7 linked regions of the Homo sapiens genome follow. The protein of the gene in region 3 interacts with the protein of the main gene of each other region in a biochemical or structural test. Each region holds a gene or a part of one and is shown on either strand. Other genes may lie near its edges.

Region 1 (4,199 bases), on a different chromosome or scaffold from region 3:
TTCCATCAACATTTACTAAAGGTGGTTTTCAAACTTAGCCATGAAACACTGTAATCAAAATGCTTTATGGAACCCCAATGAGTCCACAGATAAATGCAAAGCTGTGCTGTTAGAAAGGAGGAAAGGGGGCCTAGACGGAAACTGTAGTACTGACATCCTCCCAACTCCCTCCTGCCCCTTGTAATTATGGTGGCAATCTCTGAGACTTCCCTGGCTCCTTAACAAGCAGACCAAAAACTTCCTTGAGGAGCCCAGTAGAGCAGGGCAGGGAGATGAGGATCAAGTCTGCCATACTAACAGTATCAGGCTTTCTCTGCACACTCACTGCCCAAGTCTCCTACCAACCTGGCCACTTGGGATGGGTTCTCCTGCCGGGCCTTCCATGCTGTCCCTTACCTGCCTCTCCAGCTCTTCTGCAAAGGCATCAAGGTCCAGGTCTTTCAGTCGCTCTGGGTTTTCCAAGATTTCTTCAAGGGCTCCTGCAGGATTGGCATCCTCGGCTGATTCATCGTATTCCAGGGCATCCACTGCCATCTTCCTAGCCCACTCATAAGTCTCAGGGTGGACACGGGAACCATCAAGGACTTCAATATATGAGTCAGTGCTGGAGGAAAGGCAGAAAAGGAACAGGATATAGAACGATAAGCTTCTAGTAACAACCCAAATGTCCACCAATGGGGAACTGGTTAAATAAATTAGGGCACCTCCATACAATGGAATACTATACAGCCATTAACAAGAATGAGGTAGATCTATGTGTGCTGACATGGAAAGATGGCCACAATATATTGATACGTGAAAAATGCACTGCAAAAACACTATGAACCATATGATCCCATTTTTGTAGTAAATGGGTAGTTAGTAAATGCATAGCAAAAATAAAATTTAGAAAAACTGTAGTATACATAAAATTGTTATGGTAGTTATCTCTGGGGGGTGGGATTATGGGGGACTTCCACTTTCTGCATAATATTTCTATATGTTGAATTTTATATGATGAACTTATATGAGTCTCATAATAAGATAAATCAAGAAAGGGGAAAAAAACCTTTGAAAATTTGCTGATAGCTATTTTCCCCCATAAAGCCTTCCCAGGCTGGTCTTGCCCGTGCACTCACATGGACCTATGTTATTCGTGGAGTGTTACAGCAAAGCTGAGTGGAAAATGAAGTTTTAGAACTTGAAGCCTATTTCCCCACTGATTTCCATTACTGAATGAGGAGCTATGTGCCCGTGGAAAAGATCCTCCAAAGACTGAGTTGATAACTTCTGGAGAGGAAGAGGTCAATAGTGAAGTCCAAAGTCCAAGTGAATAGAACTTTCTCTTAATAACATCATCTCAAAACATACCAAATCTCTCTCCCCCTTCCTTATCTCTTTATACCCCCAAACTCCTTTTTCATTGCCCCCGCTATTCCCACCCTTATCTGGCCACAACAAACCATAATAATAAAAAAGCAAGTTTGTGTTTACTGAACAAAATCTTGTGTTTTCCATGCTTAATTTATAAGCTAAGCTGGTACTTTTTATGTTTCTCTCACACGAAAAATGTTTCACATGATTGAACCGATCTTTTCCATAGGTCAGGGGCTCTTGACTGAATAAAGTTCCTTACCTTTTCTTTAAAACATTTCCTAAGTTAAAATGGCTTGTGGCCCTTTGATAGCCCTAACCCCTGAAACCCGAAAACAAAGCCCACAAGGGAATTCCTCCTGCCCCATCCAGGCAGAGGGCATCACCTGTCCCCCAGGGAGGCCGTGTCGATCTTGAGGAAGCCAGCACAATTCATGAAGACTTTGGGACCCATGTGGCACATGGTGACCAGCTGGGTCCGGCTCTCGAGCCGGGTGTTGTTCTGCTTCAGGATCTGGGGGAGAGAGCTGGACTGAGCCAGGGCAGTAAGCAGGCCCCACCTCCCCAGACTGTTCCAGTCTCTATTAAACCCTCATAACAAAAACTCTGTCCCACCCAGTATCTAGTTGAGCACTACAGCATGCTATCGACCACTCAAAATTAAAAAAAAAAAAAAAAAAGTTTTGCTTTAAATGGGAAAATAATAAACAAATAAATGATGTTATACCTACACCAAAGACCATATACAACTAATGTATGGCTTATAAGTTACAAGTTAACACTAGTTGGCCGGGCGCAGTGGCTCATGCCTGTAATCCCAGCACTTTGGGAGGCTGAGGCGGGTGGATCACCTGGGGTCAGGAGTTTGAGACCAGTCTGGCCAACATGGTGAAACCCCGTCTCTACTAAAAATACAAAAAATTAGCTGGGTGTGGTGGTGCAAGCAGCAGTGAAGGGCACAGCTTTGGCCAACTGGGTCTGAAGTCAGACTCTTTTGACTCTCACTAGCTGAGTGATTTTGGACAAGTCACTGACCTTGGTCCTCCCAATCTGTCAAATTATACTGACAAAGTATATATTCATATTCAATGAAATGGCAAGTTTTAAAATTTCTGAATTCACTCCAATCCTACCTTCAGGAGGTGGGTCCCTTTCCGAGGTCCCAGGCCACAAACATACTGGATCAAGGCCTGGCTGTAAGGGTGGGCAATGGCACGGTTGACATCGACCCCGACCTCATTGACTCGGTTGATAAATTCACAGTACAAGGCGTTGAGCAGCTCCTCTTTCACCACATGCTCCTGTGGACATTCAGCAGGCAGGAGTAAGGTTACTCTGCCTTTCCCTTCACCCGAGCCTGCCTGTCAAATCCTACTCACCTGCAAGGGGTGAAACTTGAGACACAGGATGTCTTCATCGGAACTGCACACCTGGGCAAATTCAATCAGAGGGTCCTGGATGCGCCGGGCCAGGGAGACGGCCTGTCTCAGCACTGGAGGATAATCCCGGAACTCTGCCTAGAGTCAAACGAGGGTCAGCAGGGCCTTAAAATCCCCTTAGCTACAACATCAAGAGGAAATCCAAACCATTCTGGTTTAAATCATTTTCTCTGCTTCTCTGGGATCTTTTTTCCTGAGACCGATTTAATTTCTGGGACTCCCAATCTGAACCGTAACTGCAAAACGGAGAACTTCTGCATGGATAAGTACACAGGTACAGTCCTGTGCCCCTGATAACTTTTGTTTCCCAATTTAATCTCTTTGGGATTAATAGCACTTGCCTGGGCAGGCCCTAAGGGTGAGGCTCCAGCATTACCTCTGACTTCTTGCTGTTCATATAGAGAATGGCCAACTCGTTGTCAACCAGCTCTACCCCAATAGATGACAGCTGCTGGCCCTGGTCCAGCTCATGTACAATGCGCTTCACATCTTCAATCAACATCTGGGCGTCCCTGGTGGGATGAGTGTTGGTCAATGAATATGTTTTCTTAGGGATGGACAGTCTCATGACTGCCTTGGGGGTGAAGAGGTAGGGGAGGAAAGGGCTTTGAAGAAAATGAGGTCAAACATCCCCAGGGACACTCCCTGCACAAGCACAAGCCCCATCTGTTATGGGCATATGCCAGACTCAATAATAAGGGATGAGTTGGGTCACGGCCTTAAACCAGGTGTGGTCTAATCCCTACCTACCTGTTCTCTCCTGCAACTGTCACTACATGAGGCTTCTTATTCAGGAGAAATTTCTTTAGCGTTTCAATGTCTTGAGCCTGGATTGAAAGAAAATTGAAGCTGAATGGCTCTGAGGATGTAAAGATTTCAGGAAATTCTGTCTCCCTATGTTGGAGATCTTGTAAGAACTGGAAGTCTTCAGAAGATATCTGGTCCAAGGTGCTACCAAGGAACTATTCCCACCTCTTCCTGAAAGTTGGCCAACCCTGCCTCTGCTTAATAATTCCACTGACTAGAACTGCGCTCCAGTGGTACCAGGTGCCACTGGCTAGGTCCCAAGGATGAAGTTAGGAAACCGTTCTTTTTTATTGTAAACCAAAATCTAATACTTAGCCATTGGTTCTAGTTTTGATGAAGCAAAACAAAGAACTAGTAGCTGCCCTCTTTTGGGTGAGGGCCCTTTGAAAAGGTCAACATGGTTAAGTATGATTTCCTTCATCTTAAAGATGTCCAGTTTCTTATGATTTACTTTCCACTGCCTCACACTCCTGCATGTCCTCCTTTTGTGGCTATTTCATTTGTGGTGTGACTTTTGCTAAAATGTGAGTAGTTAGGACTATTAGATATTCTGATCTCCATTTCAAGATTTTAAGGGCTGGGTGCAGTGGCTCACACCTG
Region 2 (3,387 bases), on a different chromosome or scaffold from region 3:
TCATAGAGCTTGCTATTTGTACATCTGTTGAGCAACACTACATAACTGATTTTTAGTTGACTTAGCTATAGCAGTACAATGATTAGTAATGTAAAAATTAACACAGAAATTAACCTAAGGAATGAAGGGTGGGTTTGTCAAAATATCAAGTAAATTTTTGTTTCTAAAGTACATTTAATGTAGATGACCTAAAGAATGCGTTATCCATCCTATATAAAAGAAAGATAAAACACAGGTCACCAATTTTCTCATTTCACCCCATTTACCTTGTATAGAGGATTGTTCATTCCTTTGGGACTAAGTTATAGTTATGGTGAGTGTGTATTTACTGTAGTTTTGCCTGATCTCACTCATTGCACTTCCTGGAGTTAAATTTTCCAACAGCCATGTTGAGGAATAGCACTCTGCATGTTTTTGTTTTGTTTTTCGGGGTTTTTTTTAATTGAAGCCCTAAACCAGGAATTATTTGTGTTCTAACAGGAGGATGAACTTGCTGAAAATAAAACTTTGCTATGTATTTACTCTTTTTTAAAAGACAAAAGCAAAACCAGACTTTCTACGTACTACTCCAAAGACTGTGATTGTGACTATAATACATTTTTGGTAATTTTTTTATACCTAATTTGTATAGGAAGTGCTATTTCTCATAGGCTGTTTCTTGAAATTTTAAGTTTATTGCTTTAAAATGGCAGTGTTTCTCCCACTTTGATATGCTAACATTTAGTAAGCACTGGCTTTATGAAAGCGGCTTTTTATAAGTATACTGCATTTTTTGAGCCTATCATTAATTAGCTTAGTATGAAAGATAAGAAAATCTCCATGTTGTATCCATTTGGCTCAGGAAGATTCTTTGCCTTACCTTTCTTAGAACTCTTTATTGCTTATCAAAAGTTTGAGTACCCGCTTGGTTTTTTTTTGGTAATTAAATATTGTATGATTTATCTGGTTCAAGGAAGATGCACTATTCAGTTATCTATTGAGAAATTATTTTGCAGTGGTTTTAGTGGGTGAAAATGTCCCATCTGCACCAGTACACAGGCAGGCATTATCATTCTTCACCTACTTTTTAAATAGTGGCAACTTGGGATTCATTCTGGTGATTCTGAACCTTGCCTCATAGCTTAAAGTATAAAAAAGATTCAAGAGCAGTGAGGTTTGTTCTTTCCAGTGAATGGTGGACTGAGTGGTGCGAGGTGGAGGGCTAACAAGAGGAAAGAACTACATTCTTCAGAATACAGTGATGAAAATTCATTTTGAAACTCAAATATTTTCATTTTGGATATTCTCCTGTTTTTATTAAACCAGTGATTACACCTGGCCATCCCTCTAAATGTTCTAGGAAGGCATGTCTATTGTGATTTTGATGAAGACAGAATTATTTTTCTCTGTAGAAACACAGATACCACTTTATCAGGGAAGTTAGTCAAATGAAATGGAAATTGGTAAATGGACAAAAGCTAGCTAGTAAAAAGGACGACCCAGCAACATGCTTTAACCCCATTGTATGTTTGTGGAAAGAGCATAGTTTAACATCTTGAGAAATTTGGGACATAAAGTTTTCATGGTAGACAGTTCATGCAGTATATGAATTGCCATAATGGAAATAATCTGATTTTATTTTTACAACTAACATCCATTCCCCTTCATTTAAACACCTTTTGTGTTTTACTTCAGTGAGGAGATTGGAGTCTGAATGGATCTGTTTTCCAAGAGATTCTGAGAAATTTTTGTATTCAGCAGTTGGAAAGCTCTCTATTCTAGTTGATAAAACTTCCCTTTTTTGATGTAGATGCAGATATTCTATACAGTTCTGTTGTCTTTTACTAGGACTGTAAACTTTTGTGATAAAATTCAAATAAGATTTTATTTCTTGGTAATTTTGGCTTTCACAATTTATCTTTAAATCCTTGAGCAATCTGTATACAATTAAGAGATTTCTGACATTTATTCTTACACTAAATGGATCAACTCTAGGATTTAGGCATGTTAACTTCTGTTGTGTTTTGAATCTCTCCAGAGTTGCATGTAGATAGCATTTATTTCTGTGCCCTTAAACCCATTTAGAAAATAACTACAAAGTAAAAATGTAGAGGAAATAGAAATGTATTTTTTCATGAACATTTTGATACAAATTTCATCATTTAATGATTCACCAATTTCTTGCATTAATTTGAATTTAAGCATTTAATTCAAAGAGAGGGGAGCATCCATTATTGATACATGTGGGCTTTTAAAAACTCCATCCTTTATAAATAGTCAAGGTTTGGGCCACACAAAGTATATTTTTATCATGGAAAAATTTCAACTCCTCAAGCCGTAATGTTGAACAGAATTGGAGTATTTTCTTTATAATTTCTTGAACAGGCAAATGAAAGCTTATTATAGAATGCATGTATTTTCTTTTATCTTTGGAACATCAGCACCAGTATATTGCTGGCAGCTATTGTATTAAAAAATAAAGTATATTTTCACTATCATAAAGGATTCTTTTTTCCCCCCTCATGAAAATAAACAACAACTTGGGGTAAAAGTGTTTGAGACTACTATTTTTTTTTCTATGAGTGATTCAGCACATTTAATAGGTTAAAGGAGAAAAACCATAGGATCATTTCAATAGGTACAGAAAATAACTTGATTAAAATATTCATGCTACTCATTCTTAGCAAAATAGGTAACTTTTTTTTTAACCTGATAAAGACTTTTATTGAGAACCTATAGCAAATGAAACAGAAGCGATCTCGTTAAAGTCAAGAATAAGACAAGGTTGCCCTCTATCACAGCTACTATCCAGCTACTTTAACAGCTACTTTATTTAGAGATATCCTAGCCAATGCAGTAACATCAGTGAAAGGAATAAAGAATGGAAAAGAAGCAACAAAATGACTGCCCTTTGCAGGTAATGATGTTGATGGTGTGTATGTGTATAAAATCCAAAATAACTTACAAATACTAAAAATAATTCAGCTGGATTTCTAGTTGCAAGATCGAGGAACAAAATTTAATATAACTACTATATACAAATAGTAAGCACATTGAAAGCCAATAGAGAAATTGGTAACATTGGTTTTTTTCTGGAGGAGAATTGGGTGCCTGAGGTAAAGGGGTGGGAAATTATCAATGTATACTTTTAAGTTTTTAGAAATTGGTAAATATATTACCTATTCTAATAAACAAAAAGTGCTTTAAAAAACGAATAAAGATCCTAAGTGATTGAGGATCAAATCAAACAATGTGCAATTCCTAGCCAAGCATGGTGGCTCATACCTGTAATCCCAGCACTTAGGGAGGCCAAGGTGGGAGGATTACATGAGGCCAGGAGTTCAAAACCAGTCTGGGCAATACAGCAAGACCCTGTCTCTACAGGAAAAAAAAAAACAAAAAACAAAC
Region 3 (4,199 bases):
CATTGTAGTAATAACTGACTGAGGAAAGAATCATCAATAGATATTAAAACTAGTGGATAAAAGTTTGATGAGAAACAGGATATTTACACAGTCTCAAAGCATATTCCTTGAAAGCACAAATTAATTACAAAGGTAAAAATATTAACCTTAGCATTGAGAAACCTGGCAGACTCCACCTTAACCAAGTGATCTTAAAAATCAACTTGTAATAGGTCAAACCAGCATGTGTCTCCTGATAGATGCACTGAGTAAGATACGGTATCACCTCTGTGGCATTCCTACCAAAAAAAAAATGTATGCATAGATGGGTGTGTGTGTGAATGATAAAGCAAAAGCTGAAAAATGTTAATAACTTAGATAAAGGATATAGGAGAGTTCTTCGTATTATTCCAACTGATTTTTTTTTGAGACCCAACTGATTTAAGTTTGAAATTACTTCAAAATATGAAATTAACAAAAAAATTAACCATGCTAAATAAAAGTCTTTCTGAAATGCTACACATAAACCTGCCTTCTTAAACTGAGTACCATAAGCAGCAATCTTTGGTAACTCAAGGCCATCACATTGTGAACACAGTGACTGCTAAGGGATCACTAAGCAGGGCTATCTATATACTCCATGGTCTTGAGCAATTGTTGAGTCTACATCTCCTAACTTTTCTCCCTTGACATAAGCTATCAGCTTTCATACTTCTAGAATGTCTGTCTCTAGCCACACGCTTGTCCCTCTCCCTTATGATGTTACTTTAATCTCCTGTGGTTGGAAAATCAGATTAATGTAGCATATAGCATGTAAAGTAACTGCCTACTAATGTTCAGGTAGTACACATCGATTTAAGAATTGCACACCTCCCATGAGTGGCCATAAGTACTATTGTTTTCCAAAGTTTCAAATTATTCTAGGTCTTCAGAAAAGAGGTGTAAATACGATTTTTAAAATGTCAATATATTTCAAATCTAAATTTTTGAAGAAAAACACTAATGGCTGACAGCCCTCTATGCACCATCAGTTAAAGACTGCTACTGCTAGAAACAGCCTACTCATTTTCTAATCCTAGCATCCCTGTGGCAAACGTATCAAATGGATTACCTGATTTTTTGAAAAGCTTTTCCAAAACATAATCGTCATTGCTCTGTTCCTTGGCCTCACTCTTGTTTTCACTGTCTTGCTTCTGGTAACGCCTTTTCTTCACCAGGTGTGGAATTCGAGTTCCTTCAAACTTGGCGTCTCTGCAATGCTTAGAGTTCTTAGGCTTTTGCTTTGGTCTCAGATGTTTCTCCAGGGTCTCTTCTTCTGCCACACTATGATGTTTTGTTTTTGACTTGTGCTTATAAAAATTATTTTCCATTTGTTTATTCTCCCAAAAAGCTTCTGTTTGAGCCTGGCTGGGTCTTTCTCTTTTGTAAGAAAGACCTAACTTTTCATCAATGCTTTCATCACCAGATGGCATAGAAGTTTTGCCTGTTCCTGAAGAATTTGAACATTCCCCATTTCCACTAATCACTGACAACTCTTCTGGTCCAGATACTGCATTTGTCTCTTCTCCAAGCCTATCATTGCTAGTTACATTACTACTCATGTGAGGGTCATCTTTCAAAGGATCACTTCGATTAGAAGTTACTGCATTTACTTCAGCTCCTTTAGCCTCAGATTTCTCTTCAGATGATGTGGCATCATTTACAGATATGTTAGAAGCAGGGAACTTCTTGCGTTTTGGAACATCATGGTCTGCTCCAAAGGCTGGTTGAATCCTTCTTTTTAGATGGCATTTGGGTGTCTGAACATCTGATCCAGTTCCTGTAAAGAGGAAAAACACCACTAATACTATATTGTATCATCTTGTGCAATTGATTACTTTAAATTAAATGATTTTATGTAATACCTGCAAAAATTGCACTTGTTTCAGTGCTCTGGGATGCATCAGGACTAGTCAGAGTAAATAGCTCATAGAGATCATTGGATTTGAAAAACCGCCTTTGTTTTGGGTCTTTTAGCACTCTATTTGTCAAAAACTGCTTGAAGATTTGTCTAAAAAAATAAAAGATAAGCTGGTATAAAACAATGTGTAGCTCTACCTAAAAATTCAAGTTATAAAGCAATATAAGAGAGAGATGATAACAGCTGCTGCATGAATGGCTAAATAATCCCCCAAACTTTCAGCCTTGGAAAATTACAATTCAGGAAATATATAATACATCAGTTAATCTCCCAGGTCTTGCAGAATTTAAATTAGAAATAATACCTTATTATTTACACCGAATGAGCTTTTTCAACCTCCAAGATCTAACACATTTCAAGAAACACCTTTTCACATGCCATCATGTGACTCATAGTCTCTCTTAGCCTCCTTGACTTGAATACCAAGGGTCCTGCCCTGCCTAGAACCTTCCTATCATAGGGCTCAGCAAACTCTCTTACCTGGGCTTTGCAATGTCTCCACTCTGACCTCTCTCTCCCTGCTCCCACCTGCAGGTCCACACTCTGCTGAAGCCCCACACCACTGCCACTCTGGAACAGGCACCTCCACCAGCCACCCTGTCCCTCCCTGTCATTTATTCTCCCAGCTAAAGCATGAATCTATAAAAGGAAGCTCTCTTCTCACAGGATCCAACTCGTCCTCCACCCTCACACAACACTCCCTCGAGGAAGATGTAATGTTCCAGGAATGGCCCAGCATGTGGTAAAGGGCACAGAGCTTCCTATAAAAGCTGGGCTATGGCTCAAGGATAAAGTCTGTGGTGGGGGAGTGGGAGAAGCTGGCAATGTCTTGATTCTACTGTTGAAGTTACCACTGTCTAAAATCCCCTAGTCATTATGGAAAGACAGAGGACGAAACAGCCATCCTGTCGACTTCTTTGTAAGGGGCATCAGAGTCAAAGACTGCCAGAACACCCACACTGATCCTACCTGCATAATGTGGTATGTAAACACCAATATGGTAACATTCAACCTTGTCATTTTTTAAAATTTTTCTGAAGGCAACACACCATAGCAGGCAGAAATATTCCTTTCAAATAACAATATGAAGTTTACATGTATGTGATTCTTGAGGTAGAATAAGGTACAAAAATTATCAGGTTCAAAGACATTTTTTGACAACTCACAGTAAGACATCTAAGCATATTTTAAAGGGAAAGAAAAAATACAAAACAAAAACCAAAGCCTTAAGTTATAGCAACTATTATTCTAAGATGTTAAGACTTTTAAAAACAACACTTTGGAAAAATTCCCTGCTCAAGACTCTGGGAACGCACAGCCAAGAGTGGCCACTGTGTGCACTGACCGGTGGTAGATCTTTTCTTCAATGGTGCCCGCAGTCAGGAGCCTGTACACAGTCACTTGCTTCTTCTGGCCTATTCTCCATGCTCGCTCCCGGGCCTGCAACAGAGAGAGAGAGACCTCTCAACGAGAATCCTTCCCAATGACAAGCACTGACTATAAGAAACAAAGCTAGCTGGTCACTACCTGTCACTCCCAGAGTTAGAATTTTGACTCATGACGTCAAGTACACCTAAGGCCTACTCAGGAAGATGAACAGCCAGTTGAAAAGACATCTCTACTTGAAAAAATGTTTGTAACTTTGCCTATGTTCTTTTTACCCCAACTCTAGGAATGAATGCTATGGATAAACTGCTGAAGATGGTTCCTGTCCATTTGACTCTGAAGGGTGTCTTCTTTCACGTTGAAGAACAGGAGACAATCAAAATGTGAAACGTATGCTGAAGCCAACCAGAACATCAAAGGACAGTCAAAAGCGCTAACCATGAAACTATATTTCTACTAATACATTCTTTTAAAAAAAAAATAAAAACAAACCTGCGTGTCCGTGCTTGGGTTCCAGTCTGGGTCATAGATGACAACTCTGTTTGCCCCCGTCAGGTTGACACCTAAGCCGCCCACCCGCGTGGTCAGAAGAAACACAAATATGGATGTGTCCTAGAGGTAAGACACACAACACTGAGCACACACACTTAAGACCAGTTACAGTTCTCAGCCTCTGCCTCCACATATTGTACACATGGAATTACTGGGCTGTTCCCAATATAAGGAATGGTAATGTCCTAGAGACCTCTGGTGAATCAAAATCTCATTTCACAGCTTTTACTTTTAATATTTAATAGAAATATTTAAAAATTGGGTTTTTAGGAGGAAAATACATGCTGTAGAAAACGCATTCTTTGTTTGAACATACACATGC
Region 4 (4,827 bases), on a different chromosome or scaffold from region 3:
AAGCTGTGTTTACACTGACAACCACACTGCTTTAACTAAGGCTCTGTATTCATTTGAAAGACTTGTCCTGTCTCACTAAATTGTTGGCTTTCTGAGTACAAAAATTAGATCTGATGCTTCTTTGCAGGCTTCTAGAGCTAAGAACATTGTTGTGTGTCCAGAGTGTTTCTATCCTTTCTCCAAACCACCAGTACAGTTAGTTTTAACGCTAAAATTCAGTAATTTTCATCCGGCAATTGCATTGTTTATAACCCAACCACTTTCCTGACTGTTGGACTTACATCTCTGGTGAAACTAAAAGGTTCTCTTCCACTGAACCTCCGCCTGGAATTTTGATCTATTAATCCTGCTCCATTTACACAGGTGTACTCTCACCTTCTCTTTAGAAGAGGGCTTAGAGCCTTGATATCTTCTATCAAGTGATTCGGTTTCGGGCATTGCTAATTCTTTGTTCTTTTGATTCTCAAGACTGCCTGAGAAGATGTCATTCCCACAGCTGAAAAGAAGGAATTTGGATTCAATGCTGTTTCCACCACTTCGGAAAGGAATATCCATGAACTCTCTTGCAGGAAAATGGGAATTTCCAGAGAGAAACCACTTCTCCCCTTTCTTCTCTTCCCACGTCCTCTTCAGGAGCCTATAATTGGGCTCTGCCAGCATACTCTGACTGGCTAACGAAGGGTCAGATATCTGCAGTAGTAACAAAAGGCTCTTTTTCTACATGTCTACACCTCCTGGGGAGTCTTTGCTTAAACCTCTACTGGCCCTCCTCCGATCCAAAGGCAAGAATGTTCCCCTCTCTGTCCAAGACTAAAATGAACAAGTAAGGAAATGGATTTTACTCAGCCTATTGCAATAGGGAGAGCACTCCAGATATGATCAGTGTCTTGGCAGCGTAGTTTTGACTTTTATAGGGAGGAAGGTGGGATGATTGACAGTTGGGATTGTTTTGCAATCAGGAGAAGTTTCAGTCAGGTGAACAGGAAATGTTCTCTGTGTCTAACAAGTTGGGGGGAGGAGAGTTCTAATCTCAACTAATCACTCGATATCATCAGCGGGAATTTGGAAGGTCTGTTTGGCTTTATTAACAGGCTCAGAATAAAGGGGAAAGGTCTCTGGCCTTGTCACAGGCAAACAAGGGGGTCATCTGCACGCGTTTTATCTGAGTCACATGGAGACGGGTGGTTCTTTACAGTGTGCCGTTCCAGAAACACAAATAGATGAGGGGGTTTCTTAATCACCGCTGTTTTCCAGGAACACAGGGCTCAGGTAAAGTTCAACTTCACCTTCCTCCGGTGTTTCATCAGGGGAACCCTTCTGGAAGCAAAGACGTGTACTTCTTACTGTTGGCTAAATGGCTTCTTAACAAGGAAATTAAATCGTTGTTTAGAATGAAAGAGAGGAAGACGCCGGGAGAGGAGGCGCTGTGGATCGCGCCAGTTAGTAACGCATCACAGCTCGCGGGCGTCATACTACAAGTCCCAGTGAGCAACGCCCGCTTTCTTGCCTACTGCGGGCGGGAACCAGGCGCCTCTGGGCCTGACGGGAAAGACAGTGGTTTGGCTGAATGACGGAAAAGTCATTTGAGCAGGTCTTCATTTTTCGGAAGAGTATCTCAAAAGCTCTTCAAACAAGGCACGGACACAGAATCTAGGAAATGATAAAGAATCAATGATAACGTTATTACCACGGGGGTCAGACCAGGATCCACCCGAGGAAGGTATTTAACTAAAGCCCGAGTTCCAGCTCAATTTTCCCAGGAGTCTCCTTTCCGGCCGTGCCTGGCGTCATTGCTGTTGCGTCTTCTCATTGGCCGGTTGACGGGTTGCGGCGCCTGCGCGCTGCATTCCTTTGAGGGTCGTGGGCAGACGCCATTTTGGCCCCAGCGGTGCTTCTAGGAAGTAGAACGCCGGCTCGCATGCCTGCCCGCCCGCCAGCCTGCCGGGTACGGCCTTTTCCGCCGGGGCTTCCAGGTCAAAGAATTCGCCTTTGCCGCTACCGCTTTCTTACCCTCCGCACCCGTTAAGTTCTCCGGTCGGGCGGCAGTCTCTGAACACTTAGCCGCGCCATCCGGGGTCACACCGCCTGGAAGGAGGTGACGGGGGCGGCGCGGGGCGCGGACACTCCCCGCTGAGAGTCCGCCTGCCATGGACTCGGAATATTACAGCGGCGACCAGTCAGGTGGGGCAGGGACCTGGGGGACCGGGCTGGGAGGCGGAGCAGTTACTCGGCGGGGCTTGGCCTGGCACCCCGCGGGTGGGGGCAAGGAGGCCCCCCGAAACCTTCCCTCCCGCGACCCGGCCCGAGGAGGGCAAGAGCCCTCTGACCAGCTGCAAGCGTCGAAGCTAGAACGTTGGAGAGGGGATTCTGGTGGGAAAGCTTTCTTCTGAATCGGCGAAGGTTTTTGCTGAAATTGGGAAGTCACTTTCATATGTTAAGCTCCTATTGTGTGCAGGGAAGGAGAGGTGTCTTCTGTTAAGAGAGTTTTCAGTAGTTGAGTAGTTGGAGAATCCAAGGGGCGTTGGGGCGGGGGATCCTTCCTAGACTTTTCACTGCTAGTTAGGAGTGGTTTAATCTTGCTTGCAACACCGGACGTAAGTGCAGGACCCATGTTTCAGTTGCATGCATAGAGTAAGGAATGCGCTTCTGGCACTTACTGGTGGTTTTTGTGCCTTTCCTCCACCTTGAGATCGTTCCTCTTCCTCCTCACCGAAGTTTGGTCTCCTTTCTTTACTGTTTGTTTATTCTGTAAGCTGTTACTGGGGCCCACTCTGCTGGCACGGTGCTTGGCACCTGAGATTAAGGATAAGTGAGGCAGAACCTGGTGTGGGAAACACGTCGCATTTGCTTTCCCTTTGTGTGCTAGTCCTGTTGGGGCGTTCTGTTACAAAAGTTCTTAAATACACCATAAATAAATACACCCTCTATGTACCCACAAAAATTGAAAATTAAAAAGAAAACTTGAGTGCTTAAATAATTGTTTAAGCGTTAAGCCCTTTACTGTTTTGAGTTCATTGCTTTTCCTTACGTAGGACAGTGAATTCTAATGACTGCAAAGCGTTTTCCAGGCATGCACTGCTTAAAAACACTTTCCTAAGCCAGGTGCGGTGGATTATGCCTGTAATCCCAGCACTTTGGGAGGCGTAGGCGGCCGATGGCTTGAGCCCAGGAGTTCGAGACCAGCCTGGGCAACATAGTGAGACCAACACCACCCCCACCCCCCATGCCCGTACCCCACCCCCCTACGCCCCTACCCCACCCCCCTACTTCGTCTCTACAAAAAAATGCAAAAATTAGCCGAGTGTGGTGGCATACACCTGTAGTCCCAGTTACTCAGGAGGCTGAAGTGGGAGGATCCTTTGAGCCCTGAGCCCGGGAGGCAGAGGTTGCAGTGAGCGGAAGTTGCACCACTGCACTCCAAGCCTGGGCGACAGAGCAAGACTCTGTCTCAAAAAAAACAAAAACAAAAACAAAAACAAAAAAACACTTTCCTGATACTTTCAGAATAGTTTTTTTTCCATTCATTTGTGTTTTTAAGTTACTTTTTAAAAAGTAGACCGAGCACGGTGGCAAACACCTGAGGTCAGGAGTTTGAGACCAGCCTGGCCAACGTGGTGAAGCCCATCTCTACTAAAAATACAAAAAATTAGCCAGGCGTGGTGGCGGGCACCTGTAATCCCAGCTACTCAGGAGGCTGAGGCAGGAGAATCACTTGTTGAACCCGGGGGGGTGGAGGTTGCAGTGAGCTGAGATCACACCATTGCACTCCAGCCTGGGCCAAAAGAGCAAAACTGTGTCTCCAAAAAAAAAAAAAGTAATTATATGTAATACATGTATATAGGTTAAAATACGATTTTACTCTGTATTTTTTAAAGTATTGGGGCTGGGTGTAATCCCAGCACTTTAGGAGGCAAAGGCAGGAGGATTGCTTGAGGCCAGGAGTTTGAGACCAGCCTGGGCAACATAGCAAGACCCCATCTCTACAAAAATATAAAAGAAAGTTAGGTAACAGTTTGTATTTACCATTTTATATATGCTTTTCTTGAATGGATTTTCACTAGTTTTGGACTGGAGTTCCTTGTGTTCTTCATTTGTAAACAAATACTTACTGTATATCAGGTACTAGGCAGTGTTCTGGGCTCCAGAGATTTAGCAGTGAACCAAAATCCCTATTCTTGTGGCATTTTCTTTCAGGTGAAGAAGACCCACGTTAAACAAAATAACTTCAGGTAGTATATTAGAAGGTGATAAATGCCATGGAGAGAAAGACCCAATTTTAACATGAAGTTGAAATAAATTGTTGACTTGGTGTTTAGTGTTGTTTCTTAAGCTACAAATTGTTTTTATGGTGTAGTTTTGCTGCCACGTATTTCACAGTACATGTTATGCTTGTTGGTGTTTGTATGAGTATTGTATTACCTTATTCAAAATATTAGCAACTTTAGTTAATGCTTCCTCAGTGGTAACTTTTGCACTTACGTTATTCTTGATTCAGTGTGTTCATTTCACTGTAGATGTCATTCATCTTACACCATAAGTTGGTTTTTGTTTTGTTTTTAATCAGATGATGGTGGTGCTACCCCAGTACAGGATGAACGGGATTCAGGGTCAGACGGTGAGGATGATGTAAATGAGCAACACTCCGGATCAGACACTGGAAGTGTAGAACGTCATTCAGAGGTATTGGCTAACCAACATCTTTGGGAGGGCTTTTCCCTTGCGTTCTGTGAGATCTGTTATATTATAGGAGTTACAGAATCTCTGTGACAGAGTTTAGGGTTTAATCTCTGAGAGTAAAGGAGCATAAGTTAATAGAAAACCGCTTGA
Region 5 (4,199 bases), on a different chromosome or scaffold from region 3:
GGCGACAGAGCGAGACTCTGTCTCAAAAAAAAAAAGGCCGGGCATGGTGGTCACACCTCTAATCCCAGAACTTTCTTTGGGAGGCCAAGGCAGGCAGGTCACGAGGTCAGGAGATCCAGACCATCCTGGCTAACACGGTGAAACCCCGTCTCTACTAAAAATACAAAAAATTAGCCGGGCATGGTAGCGGGCGCCTGTAGTCCCAGCTACTTGGGAGGCCGAGACAGGAGAATGGCGAACCTGGGAGGTGGAGCTTGCAGTGAGCCGACATCGCGCTACTGCACTCCAGCCTGGGCGACACAGTGAGATTCTGTCTCAAAAAAAAAAAAAAAAATCTATCTCATTGTCAAAACTTAACCATCTGAATAAATCTAGCATTGTAACAACTAATGTGGAATTTATTCTGTTCAGGGTCGTCAATGGACTCTTAAACCATGGGTACAGGATATTCCTAGTCTCAAATTATCATCCCACAGATTGCTTATTAACTACAAAGAGAAAAAGATGCCTTTACGTTGAAGAAATCTGGCAATCACCACGTAATCACCATGTTATAAATAGTGGATCAATCTAACTGGATGGGCCTCCTGATGGCAGTCCACATGAAGTACACATCGTCACTTATAAATAGTGACTTAACGTACCATCCAAACCAGAACACTTCTGAGAGCAAAAATAAATAATAATTATGCCAACACAACAGGTCACAGGGCTATCCTGGAGAAACCTGGGAATATGGTCAACCTACCAATGAAGTCTCTATGCCAAACATATTTACTCTAAATCCAATCAAGATTCAGATCTAATTTTCAGTTTACAAGAAATAAAGGATAAAGGAACTAGTCAAGCAACACAAGGAGGAAATAAACAGTTAAAGCCAGGGTGTGTGCCATTCTATAGAAGAACTGGCCTGGACTATTCCAAAAAGGCAATATGGAGGCAGGATGAGAACTGTTCTAGAGAGCTATGAAAACCAAATTTGATAAGTGAAAGTTGATTATAATATAATTTCTTTTTTTTGAGACAGAGTCTCACTCTGTTGCCCAGACTGGAGTACAGTGGCACCATCTCAGCTCACTGCAACCTCCACTTCCTGGACTCAGGTGATCCTCCTGCCTCAGCCTCCTGAGTAGCTGGGATTACAAGTGTGCACCACCAGGCCCAGCTAATTTTTGTATTTTTAGTAGAGATGGACTTTCACCATGTTGGCCAGGCTGGTCTTGAACACCTGGCCTCAAGTGACCCGCCCTCCTCAGCCTCCCAAAGTGCTGAGATTACAGGTGTGAGCCACTGTGCCTGGCCCATAATCCACATTTTAAAAAATGGGCAGAAAAGATGTATTTTGTATAACAGGGAAAATTACAATTTAAACTAGATATTACATATGGAATTATTTTCATTTTCTTAGGTGTGATAACGGTATTGCCATTAGATAGGAGAATGTCCTAGCTCTTAGGAGACAAAGATAATGATGAAGTGTTCAGGGATGAAGTATCATGATGTCTTCTGTAACTTCTTTTCTTTTTTTGGGTGGGGGGCAGGGGAGATAGGGTCTTGCTCTCTCACCCAGGTTTGGAGGGCAGTGGTGCAATCTATGCTCACTGCAGCCTCCGTCTTCTGGCCTCAAGTGATCCTCCCACCTCAGCCTCCTGAGTAGCTGTGGCTACAAGCATGCACCACCAAGCCCAGGTAATTTTTGTAGAGATGGGGTTTCACCATGTTGCCCAGGCTGCTCTGACTGGGCTCAAGTGATCCACCTGCCTCAGCCTCCCAAAGTGCTGGGATTACAGGCATGAGTCACCATGCCCAGCCACTGTAACTTATTTTCAATAGTTCAGGACAGAAAATATATAGAATGTGAATGTGGCAAAATGCTAACTGGTGAATCTAGGCAAAGAGTATGTAGGCGTTTGTGATAATACTTTTTAAACTTTTAATTGTAACTAAATGAAAAGCAGGAATCTGCAAAACATTAAATTAAAAATTCTCTATTTTATAGGTACCCAAATCTAGATACACTTGAAGAAGCAACCATTAACTGAAATGGGAACATTTTTCAAAAAGCAGCCAGCCTTCCTCTACCCCCAACTTTATCATTTCCAGGAGGCACCCTCACAATAAACTCAAGTTTCAACACACGTAAGTATGTGTCATGTTAACCTTGGGTGGAGGCTGAAATGTGAGATATGAATTCTGATGCAAGCAGGAAATGAATGGAAGGGCCACTAGAAGGTTGTAAAGTGAACAATGAAAGTTCAGCTGACAAAGCAGAAATCAGTCTCAGAAAGCAGAAGCAGCACCTCTGCTAATTGTAAAGGAACCCAGGCCAGGCATGGTGGCTCAAGCCTGTAATCCCAGCACTTTGGGAGGCCGAGGTGGGCGGATCACCTGAGGTCGGGAGTTCGAGACCAGCCTGGCCAACATGGCGAAACCCTATCTCTACTAAAAATACAAAAATCAGACGGGCATGGTGGCAGGCACCTGTAATTCCAGCTACTCAGGAGGCTGAGGCACAAGAATCTCTTGAACATGGGAGGCGGAGGTTGCAGTGAGCCAAGATGGTGCCACTGCACTGCAGCCTAGGTGACAGAGTGAGACTCTGTATCAAAACAAAACAAACAAACAAACAAAAAGGGGGGGGGAACCCAAAGGTAAGTGCAACTTTAAATAAAAAACATCTGATACCTTGAACTGGCAGAGAAATGCTAGCATTTCATATTCTATTCTAAGAGTGAAGATAGTTAAGTCATTACTTTTTTCTTTTATACAGTCGAGAAAGCAAACTACAACTAACAAAGAAAAAGCTTAGGAATTGGCAATTTAAAAAAATTTTAAATGCATTCAAATGAGAATGTTTAATTTGTTTTTTTTTTTTACAAGAACTTCCAGATGCTCACTGCATGCTTCTCTCTTTATCTCTGATATCAGATGCTCACTCCAAATTGTTCCATCACAACAGATTTTAGTAACAGCTACTCAAAATAACATGCTGTTATAACTCCTTAATTAAAAGCGCTTTAGTTCAAAAGCCACATTTGATAAGCTTATTTGTTAACTAAAAATAAAATCGGTCTGCAAATCAGAAATTTGATGTGAATATCTACGTGCCATAAAAGTACATGGTTCATGTCCAGTTGAAAAGTACAGCTGCAGACAAAAGGCTTTCTCATGTTCAACTCAGTGTTTTATAAGCAATGTAGCAAAGACTTCAAAAGAGGTGGCCATTTACACAACAGTGTAATTACTTCTAAAATTGCATTTCTAATTTTGCCATATCATTCAAGTTCCATATTTGGACATACACTTAAGACCTGTACTTCTTTTATAATCAGGTGGCTATTTTAAGTCTGCAGGCCAAGACAACACTCATGTTTGTCAAATTTAGAATGCACCTAGCAAACACCACTTGCATTCATGAAACCCAGTGAATGCAGAAGAAATTCCTAATAGCTTGAATTATGTACCAAGAAAGGGTACCTTCTGTCATAGGGTGATAATTATAATTTCTAAACTATGGTTAATGTTTAAGTGAAATCTGAAAAGCTTTGTCTTAATAGAGCTAGAGAGGGAGAAAAGGGGACAAATAAAAATGCCAGGAACTCCTCATCCCTTTTCTTTATTTTCTTTTTTTTTTTTTTGAGACGGAGTCTCGCTCTGTCGCCCAGGCTGGAGTACAGTGGCACGATCTCGGCTCACTGCAAACTCTGCCTCCCGGGTTCACGCCATTCTCCTGCCTCAGCCTCCCGAGTAGCTGGGACTACAGGGGCCCGCCACCACACCCGGCCAATTTTTTTGTATTTTTAGTAGAGATGGGGTTTCACCGTGTTAGCCAGGATGGTCTCGATATCCTGACCTCGTGATCCGCCTGCCTCGGCCTCCCAAAGTGCTGGGATTACAGGCGTGAGCCACCGCGCCCTGCCCCTCATCCCTTTTCTTTTCCTCCCTCCCTCCCCCCTCATCCCTTTTCTCTCTCTCTGAGTTTTTTTCTCAGACAAGGTCTTGCTCTGTCACCCAGGCTGGACTGCAGTGGTGTGATCTCAGTTCACTGCAACCTCGGCTTCCCAGGGTCAAGCCATCCTCCCACTTTAGCCTCCTGAGTAGCTGGGACCACAGGCATGCATCACTATGCCCTGCTAATTTTTTAGTTTTTTGTAAAGACAGGGGTCTCCCTATGTTGTCCAGGCTGGTCTCAAACTCCT
Region 6 (4,199 bases), on a different chromosome or scaffold from region 3:
AGAAATGTAAACTTTCATTAGCACCAACCGGGAAATTAGCCAACTTCAATGTATTGGGTTTCTTCCCAATTCTGTGAGAGACATGCAAGCATATGTTAATATTTACATTTAGACAAGAAGATGAAAGCTAAGCACCCATTTTAGTTAGATTAATTGCTAGAGATTTAGAAGCAGATCATTCTTAAGATGTAGACTCTGGCCAGGCATGGTGGCTCACACCTGTAATCCCAGCACTTTGTTTTGGGAGGCCCGAGACTAGCCTGGGCAACAAAGCAAGATCCCATCTCTACAAAAAAGAAAGAAAGAAAAAAAAAGATGTGTACTTTAAAAGCATGCAGGGAGGGAGGAAGGGCAGGAAGGGAGCCAAATCTAGATAATATACTATTAGTAAATGCAACCAAGTATGTCACATGTAGATGATCGTCACTCACGTGTGGTTTCATGCTGTGATGGGTCCACTCTAAAAGATTCAGATCACTATTTCTTTTGGTCTTACTTTCATCCTGTAAATACTGACTAAAAAGCAAAACAAAGAAGGAATACATCAATAAATCCCTAAAGAAATTAACCATTATGGTTACATAGGGCTTTCTGATGTTAAACAGATATGCCATTCTCAAATCCATATTCATTAGCTTTTTAAAAACGTGACTGCTTTCTGGATTTTTTTTTTTTTTTTTTTTTTTTGAGACAGAGTCTCGCTCTGTCGCCCAGGCTGGAGTGCAGTGGCGCGATCTCGGCTCACTGCAACCTCTGCCTCCCGGGTTCACGCCATTCTCCTGACTTAGCCTCCCAAGTAGCTGGGACCACAGGAGCACGCCACCACGCCCTGCTAATTTTTTGTATTTTTCTTAGTAGAGATGGGGTTTCACCGTGTTAGCCAGGATGGTCTCGATCTCCTGAGCCTGTGATCCCGCCTGCCTCAGCCTCCCAAAGTGGCTTTCTGGATTTTTTATTTAATTTGGGGAGGTCTGCTTATAAAAATTGTACATGCTTGTTTTTAAAAGTTGAAATATATATCAGGTTGATAAGCATTAGATGCCCCCACCAAAATTAAGATACAAAAAATAACATAGGCCGGGTGCGGTGGCTCACGCCTGTATATCAACACTTTGGGAGGCCAAGGCGGATGGATCACCTGAGGTCGGGAGTTTGCGACCAGCCTGACCAAAATGGAGAAACCTCATCTCTACTAAAAATACAAAATTAGCCGGGCGTGGTGGCACAAGCCTTTAATACCAGCTACTTGGGAGCTGAGGCAGGAGAATCTCTTGAACCCGGGAGACAGAGGTTGCGGTGAGCCGAGATCACGCCATTGCACTCCAGCCTGGGCAGCAAGAGTGAAACTCCATCTCAAAAAACAAACAAATAAATAAATAACATAAAAAGCCAAAGACCACCGGGCACGGTGGCTCACGCCTGTAATCCCAGCACTTTGGGAGGCTGGGGCGGGCGGATCACCTGAGGTTGGGAGTTCAAGACCAGCATGATCAACATGGAGAAACCCTGTCTCTACTAAAAATTCAAAAATTAGCCGGGCATAGTGACGGAAGCCTGTACTCCCAGCTTCTTGGGAGGCCGAGGAACGAGCATCACTTGAACCCAGGAGGCAGAGGTTGCAGTGAGCTGAGACTGCACCACTGCATGGGGTGACACAATGAGACTCCATCTCAAAAAAAAAAAAAAAAAAAAAAAAGCATGAATGTAATAAAGTATGAATTTTCAAATCCTGGTATAAGCAGCACATCAAACTATACTGTATGATCCCAGTAAGAACATTTCTATACATGGGATAATATATGTATACATATGAATGCAAATGTATGTGCGCACAATTTATACACATCTTACAAAGAAAAGACTAGAAGAGAACCATTTTATAAACAATTGGTGTATCTTATGATTTTTAGAATTTTCTTCTCTATGCTTTTTATTCAAGATAAACAACCATAAATAAAAATAATATTTTATACTAAAACAATATTATTGTTAGCAACAACTTTTCTTCACAAGATTCATTTGTCCTTAGTAAAGTTAAAAGAAGGAACTTCATTGCTTCTAGTGAGCAGAAAAGGAAAAATGGACCCATCTTACTGATGCGTTTTCTCACTCAACTCATGTCACTACTTTACCTAGCTAAGAAGTAGGTATGCTTTAAAGATTGGTTTCTATTATAGCAATTACTATTTGAAACAGTCTCCTCAAACCACACACTTTAAACACTGCCCCTGGGTTCTGAGATAAACCCAACTCTCATGGAAAGCATAAAGATACAAATGGGCTTAAGAATTGAGAGGACTAGCACTCCCCAACTAACAGTTCCTAAGAACATTCAGAATAACGTATCGATGCCAAAGAAATCTAATGCAAGTCACAGGATTCTAATAAGATCTATTTTACATCATAATACATGACAAACTTGTTTCCAGTGATGCTACTAAACACGTTTTCTCAGTTGAAATCAGCTATTATTTTAAAAATAAAATGCATGCTAAGTCCTGAAATAGCCTTAACTACACATTAGACTACCATCCACACAGCTTCCTAGGATGAGATAAAAGAGAGATCACCTCAACAGGGGGTAGTGAGGTTTTCAACCTTTACTTACAGGAGAATCTCACAGATCCTGTGGCCCTTTTGTCCCATAGAATCCAGATATTTAAGACACTTTTTTCTTAGGTCAATCACCTATAATGGAAAAAGATAACATCCAGAAACATCTTAAATGTAAGAGGAGTGAGAATTTTACTTCCAAAAATAAAAGCATCTTTTAAAAAATACATGTACCAATATAAATTTTTTATGTATCTTAGAAATCCATTTATGGGCCATGCATGGTGGCTCACACCTGTAATCCCAGCACTTTGGGAGGCTGAGGCGGGCGGATCATGAGGTCAGGAGTTCGAGACCAGCCTGACCAACATGGCGAAACCCCGTCTCTACTAAAAATACAAAAATTAGTCGGGCATGATGGCACGCGCCTGTAATCCTAGCTGCTCAGGAGGCTGAGGCAGAAGAATCACTTGAACCCGGGAGGCAGAGGTTGCAGTGAGCCGAGATTGTGTCACTGCACTCTAGCCTGGGTGATAGCGAGACTCTGTCTCAAAAAAAAAAAAAAAAAAAAAAAGAAAAAAAAGAAAAACGATATCCACTTATATTGGTACATGTATTTTTTTTTTTTTAGTTAAAAATGTGTCTTACGTATCTTTAGTAAAAAAAGTGTGTTTTTAAGTTAAAAAATTAGTGGTCCTCTCAGAGTGATGAGACTTTTTTTTTTTTTTTTGCTTTCTTTATATCTGTATCTTTCTTTCCTTCTTTTCTTTCTTTCTCTCTCTCTTTTTTTTTTTTTTTTTTTTTGAGACAAGATCTCACTCTGTGACCCAGGCTGGAGTGCAGTGGTGTGATCACGGCTCACTGCAGCCTCGACCTCCTGGGCTCAGGGAATCTTCCACCTCAGCCTCTCACAGGTGTGCACCACCATGCCCACAAAGCTGGGACCACAGGTGTGCACCACCACGCCCAGCAAATTTTTAAATTTGTATAGACAGGGTCTTTCCATGTTGCCCAGGCTGGTCTCAAACTCTTGGGCTCAAGCAACCCCTCCTGCCTCAGCCTCCCAAAGTCTGGGATTATAGGCATGAGCCACCACACCTGGCCTTATAAATGCATTTTTCTGCAATAAACCTGTACTATCTTGTAAACAAAACTAAATAAATATAAATAACCCTTATGCATACTAAGACTCTTTCCTGTTAAAAATGAAAGCTCCTCGGCCAGGTGCGGTGGCTCCCGCCTATAATCCCAGCACTTTGGGAGGCTGAGGTGGCGGATCACGAGGTCAGGAGTTCAAGACGAGCCTGACCAACATGGTAAAACCCCATTTCTACTGAAAATACAAAAATTAGCCAGGTATGGTGGTGGCACGTGCCTGTAATCCCAGCTACTCAGGAGGCTGATGCAGGAGAATTGCTTGAACCCAGGAGGCGGAGGCTGCAGTGAGCCGAGATCGTGCCATTGCACTCCAGCCTGGGAAACAGAGCAAGACTCCATCTCAAAAACATACAAACAAACAAAAAAAAGCTCCTCAAGTACAAGGACTTCGTCCTGTAGCCTTCTAAAAGTTGTTCAACTCAAGAACTAAAAAGGAGGCCAGGTGCGGCATCTCACCCATCATTCTGAGAGGCTGAGGTGGGAGGACT
Region 7 (4,782 bases), on a different chromosome or scaffold from region 3:
CCAGTAAATTCTCTCTCTTTGCTTAATCCAGTTAATGTTGGCTCTTCCATTCCTTGCAAAAGGGTTTGAAATAATAGAGTTTTATTCTGTATTTATATCACAAAACATGATTTTTTTTTTTTTTTGAGACGGAATCTTGCTCTGTTGCCCAGGCTGGAGTGCAGTGGCGCGATCTCGGCTCACTGCAAGCTCCGCCTCCCGGGTTCACGGCATTCTCCTGCCTCAGCCTCCCGAGTAGCTGGGACTATAGGCTCCCGCCACCATGCGTGGCTAATTTTTTGTATTTTTAGTAGAGACGGGGTTTCACCGTGTTAGCCAGGATGGTCTCGATCTCCTGACCTCGTGATCCGCTTGCCTCGGCCTCCCAAAGGGCTGGGATTACAGGCGTGAGCCACTGCGCCTGGTCTCTTTAATAGCACTATTGACCCATTCAGTGACCAAATTCCTGGTTTTGAAACTACAGATGCCTAAGCCCACTTCCTCCCCAAAATTTCCACTGAAATCTACAAAAAATAAAGAACTGAAAAATGAGTGAACAGATTGTAGTATTAACATATTCTCTCAATGAAATTCTACTAAGCATTTTAAAAATAATGAATTATTGATATCTGTGGGCCAAGCACTGATTACAGGCATGAGCCATACTGCCCGGCCAAGACATACCTTTTTTTTGTCCACTGCTATTCCCAGATTCTAGAACAATGCCTCGCCCGATAATTATGCACTGAATAAGATGATGTTTACTAATATAACGTTAAGCTCAAAGCAAATAGCAGCAATTTTTTTTATGCAGTACTAAAATTGTATATTGCTTTCTATGAAAATGTTTTAGTTTTATGTGCAAATCTAAATTTACATAATTATCATATAATTAGAATACACATTTATAAAGAGTATTTACATAAACACTTTCTTTCAAGTGTCATAACCTAAATTATAGTTACCTTATTTAAAGCATGTCCAACATGAGGGTCACCGTTTGCATAAGGAGGTCCATCATGAAGGCAAAATTCTGTCTTTACTTTTCTTTCTCTTTGCCATGAATAAAGTTCTGAAAATCCACATTTCTGTTTTAAAAAAAAAAAAGATATCTAAACATCATATAAATACATACTCCTGAGTCTAACCATAAATAACAGCCAACACTTGCTTATTTCCATTCCAATTACATTCCAATCTATTCCATTCCAATCTACTCAACTCTGAAATACAAGGTGAGGTTTCTGAAATGCGTGTCAAAGTACGCATCTCTTAAAATCTTTCAGTAATGTCCCCATACACCTCAGATTGAAGTCTAAACTCTTTATATGATATGCAGCACCCTACAAAGGTTTAGTGCCACTAAGTTCTCGGGCATTCTTTCATCACTCCCCATGCTTCACTCCTCACCCCCGACATGTTGAAGGACCTGCAGATTCCCGACACACATATTCTTGCTATTCTTTGGCGGCAATGCTTGCCATTCCCCAAATCTGGGAACAACATGCATGGCAGTCTAAGTCACTTCCCTTCCCTCACTTGCTGTATGATTTTGTCCAGGTTACTGTGCACTTACGGGCCTGCTTTCTTATCTGAAAAAAAAAAGTGTTAATATCCATCTTACAGGGCTGGTGTGAAGATTAAACGAGGAAACATTTGAAACTGTCACTCTTTCTGGCATACAGAAGGTATTGACTAAAAAACCTTTAAAAAATTAGATGAACTCTTATAACTGTCAGAATATTTAGGCTAAGTATATTTACTTAACCAATATTCCAAGAATATCAGGGATTTTTAAAGACTAGAATTACAGAAGCTAAAGAGGAATCTCTGCTCTTAGAAAGTTCAGACTAGGCTGGGCGTAGTGGCTCAGGCCTGTAATCCCAGCACTTTGGGAGGCCGAGGCGGGAAGATCACTTGAGGTCAGGAGTTAGAGACCACCCTGGCCAACATGGTGAAACTCCATCTCTACTAAAAATATAAAAATTAGCCGGGCGTGGTGGTGCGCACCTGTAATCCCAGCAACTGGGGAGGCTAAGGCAGGAGAATTGCCTGAGCCTGGGAGGCGGAAGTTGTAGTGAGCTGAGATCGCGCCATTGCACTCCAGCCTGGGCGACTTCAAACGAGTCATAATTCCAACTAGGGATCTAAAAGATCCAAGAAGTGGGCTTCAACTTCCCCTTCATTCATCATAATTGAGGTTTTTAAGGTTTTTTTTAAGGACGGGGGGGTGGGGGTGACTAGCCAATATGGTCTCGAACTCTTGGCTCAAGCGATTCTCCCGCCTTGGCCTTTCAAAGTTCTGGGATTACAGGCGTGAGCCACTGCGCCCAGCCTGGGTTTTTATTTACATGTGGACATGTGAATTTACTTTTTACAAGGCATTGGAAAAGTGCCCAAAGTCTATCTGTTTTGCCTACGGTAGACATGGGACATACGTGCGATACATGCTGGTAACTGGGCATCGCTAGTGACCCCTTAATGTCCCGCTCCAGAACCTGGTACAAAGGAGGGGCTCATCTAGAGATTTCTTCACTTAGGTTTTCAGCCCACAAAATCTGTGCGAAGCAGACGAATTCCACCAATCTGGTCACACCCCCGCCCACCCGCACCGGCGTGGAGCCTAGAGGTGTGGCGCCTGCGAGCGCCCGGTGCCCGCGGCCGGATCGGGCCTCTCTGGAGGCCCCGCGCCGAGGCGGGGCCCGTACCTGCTGGATCTCCAGCTCCGTGTCCGGCTGCTGGCGGCCCAGCAGCTTCATGGGGAAGCTCGTCTGCGGCAGCAGCACCGTGTCCCGGTATCTGCCACTATTCGAGTTCGGCTGGTGGTTACTGGCCCCGGAGACCGACCGCACCAGAAGCCTCTTCGTCGCCCCTTGCCATCCCGGGCTGCAGGGAAGGCGGGGCGTCCCCCACAAACTTCGGGCAGTGGCCAGGGCGGCCGCGCCCGGCCCGCGAGGGCGCAGCCCCCAACGCATGGTCCGGCAACCCCTGAGAGCGGGGTCCTCCGCTCCCGCCCCAGCTTGAAGGGGCAGGACCCCAGGAAACCAAGGGGAGCCGAGTAAGAGGGCGCACGCGCTCCGGGAGCGGAAGGGGCGGGGAGGGAGCGGCGGGTAGTGGGGGCGGGGCGGTGGGCACCGCCTTCCCGGAGTCCGCGGAGGCTGAGCCACCTCCGGGTCCTCCCTGCAGCCGCCGGGGGGCGGGCTCAGATTCACGGGGGCGGGGAAAGGTGGGGCTCATAGTCCAATCGCTGTGCCCTGCTTTTTAAATATATATATATATATATTTTTTTTTTTTTACTTTAACACAACATAGCTATGATTGTATCACTTTAACATGTAGCCAATAAAAAGTAAGATATTTTACATATTCTCTTCATACGAAGCCTTTGAAATTTGACATGTACTTTGCACATACTGCACATCTCAATCTGGGCTAAACTCATGGCAAGGCCTCAACAGGCACACTTGGGTAATGACTACGACTGTGGGCAGCACAAGTTCAGTGAAAATATTGTAAAATAATAAAATTTCAGCAAATCGAGTTTTAAAGATCTAATTGGCTATTATTAAATATTCCTAAACCTTTCTACAAAATAGAAAGGATCTCTGATGAGCTGTGGGGGCAGGGTGAGGTTTATAGGCAGAAAAGGTTGAAGAAGGCAGAAACAGGGAACGAAAAGCAGACGCCATTTGGCTTAATGGATTTGGCTATCATCTCTCCTGATTTCCTGGAACGCAGACCTTACAAGTAAACAGCCTAGTGCAGGAGCTCAGTCCAAATCAATGACTTCCCATAGATTTTAACAATATTATAAAACAATCTAACCTTTTTTTAAGATTCTCTGAAATCCCTGTTATATCCCACTCATAGAATAGTATGGTATATATAGCAACTTCTGCTCCTGTTTCTGACAGATTCTGCTCTATTTGGTTGTCCAGTTCATAATAGTTCACAATTGTTACCATTTCATTGTTGAGTATACAACTTGGGAATAGCCTTCCTAATCATAAAACACAACATCCAGAACATTTGGTTCACATAAATAAGAAGGACAGATTTTCTACAAGTATGAAAACATATATATACCAAAAAAAGATACCGGAAAGTGAGAAACCAAGTGACAAACAGAAAGCACTCAATGTCAGCCTTTCACCAATCAATGACTCCAGCTCTGTACCTGAATTAATTCACTTAATCTTCAAAACCAGATGAGGTGAAGACACAGCATACCAAAAAAACCTGTGAGATAGGAACTATGAGTATTTCCATTTCACAGCTAAGGAAACTGAGGCACATAGAATTATGTAACTTGCTCAAGATGATACAACTAAGTAGCACAGCTGGAATTCAAACCCAGGCAGTTAGATTCCAGTGTGTGTGCATAGCCACCATGTTATGTTGTCTTTCCTACACTATACTGTGGAAGAAAACATTTGCTACACATTAAAAAATAATAATACACAAAATGCATAAAGAGCTGCTACAGATCAAAAAAACAAATGTAAACAACCCAATTTAAAAAAAAAAAAGGATAAAAGAAGCTGGACACAGTAGCTCATGCCTATAATCCCAGCACCTTAGGAGGCTGAAGTGGAAATATCACTTGAGCCCAGGAGTTTGAGACAACCCTGGGCAACATAGGGAGACCCCTATCTCTGAAATAATTTTTAAAATTAGCTGGATGTAGTGGCATGTGCTTGTGGTCCCAGCTGCTTTGGAGGCTGTGGTGGGAGGATCGCTTTAGCCCAGGAAGTCAAGGCTGCAAGTGGGCCATGATTACACCACTACACTCCTGCCTGGGCA

What was found.
Region 1: the proteins of ERCC6 (region 3) and SUPT6H form a complex in vitro, tested with the Homo sapiens proteins (one large-scale study listed by BioGRID).
Region 2: the proteins of ERCC6 (region 3) and CLIC4 form a complex in vitro, tested with the Homo sapiens proteins (one large-scale study listed by BioGRID).
Region 4: the proteins of ERCC6 (region 3) and IWS1 form a complex in vitro, tested with the Homo sapiens proteins (one large-scale study listed by BioGRID).
Region 5: the proteins of ERCC6 (region 3) and ARPC1A form a complex in vitro, tested with the Homo sapiens proteins (one large-scale study listed by BioGRID).
Region 6: the proteins of ERCC6 (region 3) and SENP2 form a complex in vitro, tested with the Homo sapiens proteins (one large-scale study listed by BioGRID).
Region 7: the proteins of ERCC6 (region 3) and IARS2 form a complex in vitro, tested with the Homo sapiens proteins (one large-scale study listed by BioGRID).

What each region holds. Positions count from the first base shown.
Region 1 is NC_000017.11:28,685,759-28,689,957, reverse strand, and holds part of SUPT6H (transcription elongation factor SPT6), read right to left. Parts: intron 3,620-4,199; coding exon 3,543-3,619; intron 3,305-3,542; coding exon 3,169-3,304; intron 2,871-3,168; coding exon 2,733-2,870; intron 2,655-2,732; coding exon 2,487-2,654; intron 1,868-2,486; coding exon 1,740-1,867; intron 1,270-1,739; coding exon of another isoform or gene 1,224-1,269; exon of another isoform or gene 1,119-1,223; intron 605-1,118; coding exon 397-604; intron 1-396.
Region 2 is NC_000001.11:24,841,792-24,845,178, forward strand, and holds the end of CLIC4 (chloride intracellular channel protein 4), read left to right. Parts: 3' UTR 1-2,530; downstream 2,531-3,387. UniProt on the Homo sapiens protein: In the soluble state, catalyzes glutaredoxin-like thiol disulfide exchange reactions with reduced glutathione as electron donor. Can insert into membranes and form voltage-dependent multi-ion conductive channels.
Region 3 is NC_000010.11:49,469,092-49,473,290, forward strand, and holds part of ERCC6 (DNA excision repair protein ERCC-6), read right to left. Parts: intron 3,938-4,199; coding exon 3,818-3,937; intron 3,380-3,817; coding exon 3,285-3,379; intron 2,030-3,284; coding exon 1,884-2,029; intron 1,799-1,883; coding exon 1,091-1,798; intron 1-1,090. UniProt on the Homo sapiens protein: Involved in repair of DNA damage following UV irradiation, acting either in the absence of ERCC6 or synergistically with ERCC6. Involved in the regulation of gene expression.
Region 4 is NC_000002.12:127,523,529-127,528,355, reverse strand, and holds the start of IWS1 (protein IWS1 homolog), read left to right. Parts: upstream 1-1,866; 5' UTR 1,867-2,147; coding exon 2,148-2,181; intron 2,182-4,564; coding exon 4,565-4,680; intron 4,681-4,827.
Region 5 is NC_000007.14:99,328,740-99,332,938, reverse strand, and holds part of ARPC1A (actin-related protein 2/3 complex subunit 1A), read right to left. Parts: intron 1-4,199. UniProt on the Homo sapiens protein: Probably functions as a component of the Arp2/3 complex which is involved in regulation of actin polymerization and together with an activating nucleation-promoting factor (NPF) mediates the formation of branched actin networks.
Region 6 is NC_000003.12:185,620,315-185,624,513, reverse strand, and holds part of SENP2 (sentrin-specific protease 2), read right to left. Parts: intron 2,689-4,199; coding exon 2,609-2,688; intron 517-2,608; coding exon 432-516; intron 1-431. UniProt on the Homo sapiens protein: Protease that catalyzes two essential functions in the SUMO pathway.
Region 7 is NC_000001.11:220,092,389-220,097,170, reverse strand, and holds the start of IARS2 (isoleucine--tRNA ligase, mitochondrial precursor), read right to left. Parts: upstream 3,040-4,782; 5' UTR 2,955-3,039; coding exon 2,688-2,954; intron 1,068-2,687; coding exon 945-1,067; intron 1-944.